Homo sapiens: one gene and its partner. The protein of the gene in region 2 purifies or fractionates together with the protein of the main gene of each other region. This does not show direct contact. Each region holds a gene or a part of one and is shown on either strand. Other genes may lie near its edges.

Region 1 (3,823 bases), on a different chromosome or scaffold from region 2:
TATTTTCCTAGTTACCTGTCCCCCTGAAAAAGATTTTTAAAACTGCTGTGTACAACAATTACATTTAATTTGTAACAGCCAAATAAATTTAACCAGGAAAGATTAAAAATCTGTGTACTACCAGCAAAAATTATTTCCCATCTCTCTTTACCTACCTACCTATCTATCTGCCTATCATCCACCTACGAACCTATGTGTGTATCACTTGAGAATATGAGCAGCCCTTCTTTCAGTACCTGCTTGGTGGAGAAGACAGAGACCTCTGAAGATTGACCCCCGAGTTCATGTCATGATAGTATGGTTGGCTTGGGATTTCTCCAATTGGGAAGTTGACTCCAGTTCCCTGGGTTATGGGCGCTGAGGAATAAGACAAAGAAGCACTGGGAATGACATTCGTATTTCTGACCTCTATTCAAATGTAATAATCGAGAATCTTTCATGCCTCTGGTCAAAGATAGAGAGAACTTTCTTCACCTTAAGCCTCTAATACCCACCATACAACCTGGGTAGGACCTGAAAACTTGCTCACCTTAGCAACGTTCAAGCTTGGAAATTTGAGGCAATCAGATTATAATCACTGGTTACCAATTTCCCGAATCCTATTCCTCAACCTTCTTTACTCACTCCTTTATATTAGTTGACATTACATCTGTCACTCTGCTAGTTAAAAATGCCTTGGAGGAAACAGAATATACGAGTCCTATCACTCAGCAACACCAAACAAGCTGCTTTGCACTACCTAGGCTCTCGAAAACCAAATCATTGTTAAATAAATAAACAGAGAACCGTTTCACAAAAAAAAGCAAAAATCATTATTCACAGCCTCCCAGTTAGGATATGATAATAATTATTAATATCATGACTTCTAATCCACTCAAATATTAATGTTGATATTAATGTTGATAATATAGAATAATAATTTTTGGTTTGTAACACAAAGGATAAATGCTTCAGGTGATGGATACCCCATTTACCCTGATGTGATTATTATGCATTGTATGTCTTTATCAAAATATCTCATGATATTTTGTATAATTACATCTGTTCACATTTTTTAAATTTAATTTTAGATATCATGAACAAAGCTGTGAGGCAGCATATTGTGTTAGAATCAGCAGAGTCTTGAGAGATAAATAGCCTTTTAGTTTAAACTCCCTCTGTATTATAAGTTATGTGCCCTAGTTTCCTAACTGTAAAATGGGAGTAATAATAACCGGACACATAGGATTATTTTGAGGATGAAATGAAATAGGTAGTGATAAGAGCCTAGAATCATGCCTAGTGTATAACACGTGCTCAACCATTGTGAGTTCCCTTCCTTCTTTGCTTTCTCCTCCAAACTTCTTCCCTGGTAGACTGGAATGGTTAGCAAAGATGAACAGTTCAAAAACGTGTTAAAAGCAGAGGAAGAGGTATAAATGAACCTGTTCGCTGAAAATTTGTTCATTCAACAAATTACTGACTGTGTCCACTGCTGGCAGGTGTTGGCTGCAATGTGTACAAAATAGTCTCATATATTGCCCTTAATAAAAATATTGGGCAACAAGCTGGGTAAGTAAAACATTCATGCGAAACACATAAATACCAAAATAGATGAAAATGAAACTGTCCAAATTAATGACATGATCCAAAACTGCTGTAGAATTTCAAGGGAAAAAGAATCCAATACCAGCTTGAATTGTCCAAGAAGTCTGCGAAAAGCCATAGCTGGCACTGGACTCTGGAGAATGAGTAAGAGATTAGAGGGAGGTCATTCTAAACAGGGACTGCTGCAGAAGCAAAATCATAGGTAGAGATAATGTGCAAAGTGGAGACCAGGCAGGTTGGTGTCAAAGAACTCCTTAAGAATAGTTTCCATTTCTTTACCTGTCTTAATCAGCCCTTCAAAAGCTCACACGAAATTGTACTCTGGGGCTTTGCAACAAAATTCTAGAGCCCCTGAGATGCACTCTAAGCATACGTGGTCTACTTAAACTCCTCCTCTCTCCCATCTGCCTCAAGTTGAGTATAAAATTCCAAAGGGATTGCAGATTTTTATGGAAGTTTTCTTACCCCTCATTTTTAATGAATATTCTAAATGTGTTCACTACCCTTTGAATTGTATTTTAATATTAGGCAGGCTAAGATTAACTTAAAATATTTTTAAGAAAGTATGATTAGGAGGTACAAGCTTTATCACAGAGAAGTAACCACGGAATACACAATGAACATCTCCCTTTCTGGACTAAAAATTAAATACATCAGTATATACATGACTAGTAACAGCTCCAAACTTCTGGATTATCTATCAGCCTTCTGATAGATTGTTCATGTTATATAATACACTGTAACATCCTTTACACAGAAAATACTTGTATCCAATGAGTAACTAAGTGCCTGATGGCTTGAATTATTTGGACAGCTAAAATGTAGCTATGTCTGTTGTGGCTTGAGGCACACCAAAGGTTAAAAAAATGTGAGGTAAGAAATCCCACAGTAACCGCATGTTTTATAATTTATTATTAGAACCATGTTCTATATGACACTGGAAGTGGGGTACATGCTAGAAGGAGTATTTCAGGGGCTCAAGTGAAGTAAACAATCTGTCTGGCTTCCTATCACAGTAATGGATACAATTCATAGACCTGAGTTATTAACAGGAAACTTAGAGGTTCCACCTTACATAAACTATTTTCAATTTATTAAGCTCATGCAATATTTAGGCAAAGATTTATAGTTTCTATTGAATACATATGGCTCCATAGTTAACATAATTTGCTTACCCATAAATAAACTAGATGTAATTTGTAGTAAATGATAATTTTAAAATCTTCAGAAATTGTTTTTTTCTAAATTTTGTTCCAGAAAGATTATTCCGCAGTGTCAAGACAGCAATAAAAACGACAAATATAGCATGTTCTCACTCATACATGGGAGCTTAAAAAGTTGATCTCATCGAAGGGGTTGTCAGAGGTGGGGGAGGGTGGGGAGGTGAGGAGATGAAGAGAGATTGGTTAATGGGTAAAAACATACAGTTATAATAGACAGAAAGAATAATTTCCAGTATTTGATAGCACAGCAGGGTGGCTACAGTTAACAACAATATATTACATATTTTAAAATAGCAAAAAAAGAAGATTTGAAACATTCCCAACATGAAGAAATGATAAATGTTTGAGATGACAGATATCCTAAATAGCCTGATTTAATCATTATACACTGTATGCATGGATCCAGAGATCACATGGATTCCATAAATATGTACACATATTATGTTTTAATTTTGTAAAGATAGCAATAAAATAATTTGTCTACGGATTTATGCATGAGCACTGTAAAAATTTAGTATGCATTCTGACACTAAATGGGAGATACAGAAAGGAAAGTAGATTAACAAACACGGCCAAAGTACTAAAACAACACACATGGAAATTATTTAATGACAGAGTGTGTGGGAACAGCAAGTCTCAGTCAGATATTCCTGCTTAAGAGCCTCTGGAAGAACTTACATCAGACGCAAAGATCAGTGTTAGCGCCTCTCCCAGGGAGCTACAAGAAGGCTGAAAGCTGCAAATCATGTTTAAGAGGATGCCGATATCCTCTTAGAAATGAAGCACCAAAGAACCTCAGATTCTAAGGGTTAGAGGCCAACCTTTAATCTCCCTTATTGTTCTCCTCACTCCAAAAGCTGATCCTAAATCAACTTTTAAGATGGAGATAATATCATTCAAAAGAGAGATCACTATCCTAATGCTGAATGGCTTCATTAGCTAAAGTCAACATACACATCAGTGGGTCTTATGATTGTAAAACCCTAGAGGACTGAAAGCACTAGCATACTGTA
Region 2 (3,823 bases):
CCCCTTCCCTAATCTCCCCTACTCCAGGCACCCCTGTTTCCCTTCTCTAGGGGCTGCTCCTGTTTGGCCCCATCTCCACTTGGCTAATTCCCCCTGTGGCCCCTCTATTGAACTGTTGTGTTGTCCATTTCCCTGTGACAAGGGCTCTGGTTACAGAGTTATTGATTGGTTTTCATGCAGACAGATGGGCCCTTCCTGGGCTCCCATCGAAATCTCTGGCTGTATGGGCTGATTGTTGCCTCTCAGGGTGTAGGATTGCACTGGAGACCACCCTCCACGCAGCCTCCTTTGCCCAGGCCATGAACGGTAATAAATGGAGGCAGCCTGAGCGATAATAAAAGCAATTGAGTAGGTTACCTGTGCAGACACAAGATTTATGCCTCTTCATATTTGATGTGATTGTTTTATTGAGTTCTCAGAACAGTTGGGACACTATTTATTTATTCATTTTGGGTTTTCCCTCTCTTTTCTTCTTTGCGTCACCTTCTGAAATGCACCTGGAGCTGTTGTCAGGCCCAGTGCCTCCTGTCTGCCTCTTCTCGAGAGTTGCCAGCTGAGGTAGGAAGGCAGGGCAAGCAGCAATTGCTCTCACCAGAAACCCCTTTTGTAGCCTGAACACCCACAGAACCAGCCAACAGGGAGACAGTCAGACCAACAGGACTGTGGGCCAGGAAGCCCAGGCTAAAACAACTACAAAAACAAAAAGAGGCTTTTCAGGAGGACAACTCCAGCTCATTTTAAGGAATGAGAATTTCAACCATCATGCCTGTTTCAAATGTTATTCCAATGATGGGTAACCTCACAGTAGGGGACTGTCTCTGGGAAAGGACAGGTGAGCGAGGCTTCTCTGACAGAAATTGGCATGTTGGTCTGCTATTTGTGGGCCCAATCTGCTAGGCTCAGGCCACAGAAGGTGAGTTCCCTGTCCTTGTTTCTGCCATTCCTCTGTGGATAGAAGTCTTTTTCTGAACTCTCCAACTTGCCCTGTCTCTTTGCCATGAGACCAACAGCCCTGACCACCAAACAGCTACAAAGATATGGAGATGTGGTAGGCAGTACCACCCCTCTGGCCAAGCTTCATGCCAAGCCAGGTCCAAGAGTAGAATAGGCAATGTTCTGGAACCTGAGTTTCAGAGAGGGAGAAACAGACCCTAGCCCGGAACATATCTTCAACATTCACGGGGCTAGGATTAATAGCTCCCAGCTTATTTGGAAAGGTCTTTGAACGAACAACTAGTAGACCATTGTCACCCCACTGCCTGACCCAAGGGGAACAATGACCTGAGAATGACTCAAAGACCTGAGAATGACAGAAGAGGGACACCCAAATGATACAGGATGGAATTCCTTAACACAGCCCTGGGTTGCCACTGCTAGGAGAATGAATGTACTCACCTAGAGCCTAACAGGCTAAGAGAGAGTGTGGATAGTGGGAGATCCGTGAGAAGTTGATTCTGCCAGGGTCCACTCCAAAGATCTAGGGGCAGAGAGTGCCCTGACTCCAAAGAGTGTTAGGCAAGCTAAAAAAGTTAGAAGGTGACACCCTTATTGTCAGCTCTTCCCAAAAGAGCACCCTCGGGGGATTGTCAGTAACCCCAGACTCTATTTGGGGTCTGTGCCTGTTCTTTCAAAGGAGGTGTATTCTCTGCCCAGAGTAACAGCCAAACCAGAAGATTTTGGCATATAATCAGGAAAATCCCTCCTGCTTAGACAATTGCTCAGCTATGTAACTAGACGACTTTTTCCTTTTTCAGTAGCATGGATCTCCCTCCACCTCTCCCCTCTCCAGGCCATGTCCCACACCAGGTTTCAATCTAAAGTCCCCTGTTTATAAACACCTGCCCTTTACAGCAGCGGTGTACAAACCAAAAAGCTGGCAACTCCATGCTCAGCCATTGGTAACCCAATGTTTAGAAAGATTCAGATAAATTCCACATGCTAAGGAGCCCAGTCAAGCCTTGGGATTTTTGAACGTGGTTTGTGGCAGTGGGGAGGCCTTCCTGACCCAGTCCTCTGGTTCAGAGAGGCATTTCTGAGGATTTGCTAGTGGAGAATACAGGCTGGATGGCCAGGCCTTTATCACAACAGAATCAGAGAATGCCAAAACCATTTTTAAAGAGTGAAAAAAGCAATTTAGTTTATAACCATAACAGCATATTTCAAGTGTGGCGACAGCATCTGTTTTGGGAAGGAGAAGATGAAAAACCACTAGCTCAGGTGGGTGAGCATGTGTGGACTTCTTTTCTTGCCAACCACCAGCTCATGCACAACCTTACTCATAACTGTTATAAAGTACCCAACACAAGTGGGCAGGTCACTACCAACAAAGCTCTAAACTCAAGAACCACCCGTTCCCCGGTGCACCACACTTTGTGCACACAGGAAAATCTCCGGGCTCTTCCTACAGTGAGTGAGAATTCCCAGAACTGATAAAAGGCAAAGTTTCTGATATAACCAGCACTAGCAGAAACATCCTGTTTTTATCAGGCTTTTGGGTGAAACAATACATCTCAGATAAACCTTCCCTCTTCAGAGCAAAAAGCACCTACAGGGATGAAGATGAGAGCGTGGTTCCCCAGGTGGATTTCTCCAGCCCCAACTCAGCAGCACACAGGGAAGCCCCCAGAATTCTTTCCAAAATATGAACCATGAGAGGATTCTGGACAAAAGCAAAATTGGGAATAGTTTTCCTGCTCCTTGTAGACAAAGCCAGCCATGAAGCCTAACTACGGACCCAGGGTAGGCTGCCCGTGTTGTTGGTGGCTTACCTGTTCCTCTCCTCCTACTCCCTCTCCATCTCCAGCAACATCTGCCCACAGATGGCTATTTCTCCACACCCAAAGGAAGCCTGTGTGCCCCTCAGGTGATAGGGCTCTGTGCTGGGCAGGTTCTGCAGCTGTCACAGCTGTCAAGCTGAGGCTACTCTTTCCCCACCCTCATCTCACTTGTGGCTCACTTGTCTACTTTGTCCTAATTCTGGTGGGTGCACCTCAAGACCTCTGGAGCTTGATCCTAGGGTCACCTGGCCCTTGTTCTCCATGGCTTTTCAGGATAGAAGTATTTCCAAACTTATGCCTAAGCCAGCTTCCAAAATCATCTCAGCCAATGAGGAGTGCATGTTGTTGAGGGGAGGGGCAGGGGGTGTTGGACGGGGCCACCACACCTGACTTGTTGCGCCACTCCTCTACCCCATTCAAGAGAAACAAATTACCTAAATCCTACATGACTTGGGTTTCTCCAAAGGCTTGAAAATTCTGTTACTGACAACAAGCATTTCTCTTAAATGTTCTGCAGAAGACCACTACCCAGTCCCAGCAACACTGCACACAGCAGGGCCACTCTTGGCCCTTGGCTGTTCTTCTCTTGAGATCTCAGTTCCAACTCATGCCCAGGACCAGCAATCAGCCAAGAGACTGAGTCTCTACATGGCTCATAAAACAATGCTTTGTCCCCTTCCCCTCCCGAAGTGCCACTCTTGCCTCAGCCCAAAGCTGCCCCAGCCTCCTCTCCTGGCTTTTAAAGCAAAGGGCTTATTCCTCTCCCAAACCACCCAGCGTCTTTCTCCAGCTCCTTTGGAAGGTATCTGAATGTCAAATCGCTATGCTTTCAATACCTGGCTGAGCCAGGCCGAGGGAGCTGGAGGGTTTTCGGAGGGTGTATAATTAGCTGATCAGTATTATGTTACCCTGTTCATAACTGAATAACCATTTTAATACAGATGGCACACACTGGGATAATTTCTGGGGTCGCCTCGCAGTACATTACAGCACGAGTGTGGCAGAGGGAATCTTCTTTAGCCAAGGTACATTCTACCAGCTAATTT

The links.
Region 1: the proteins of PAX2 (region 2) and NFIB purify together in Homo sapiens (co-immunoprecipitation; one large-scale study listed by IntAct). This does not show direct contact.

Annotation. Positions count from the first base shown.
Region 1 is NC_000009.12:14,149,909-14,153,731, forward strand, and holds part of NFIB (nuclear factor 1 B-type), read right to left. Parts: intron 358-3,823; coding exon 237-357; intron 1-236.
Region 2 is NC_000010.11:100,752,079-100,755,901, reverse strand, and holds part of PAX2 (paired box protein Pax-2), read right to left. Parts: intron 1-3,823. UniProt on the Homo sapiens protein: Transcription factor that may have a role in kidney cell differentiation. Has a critical role in the development of the urogenital tract, the eyes, and the CNS.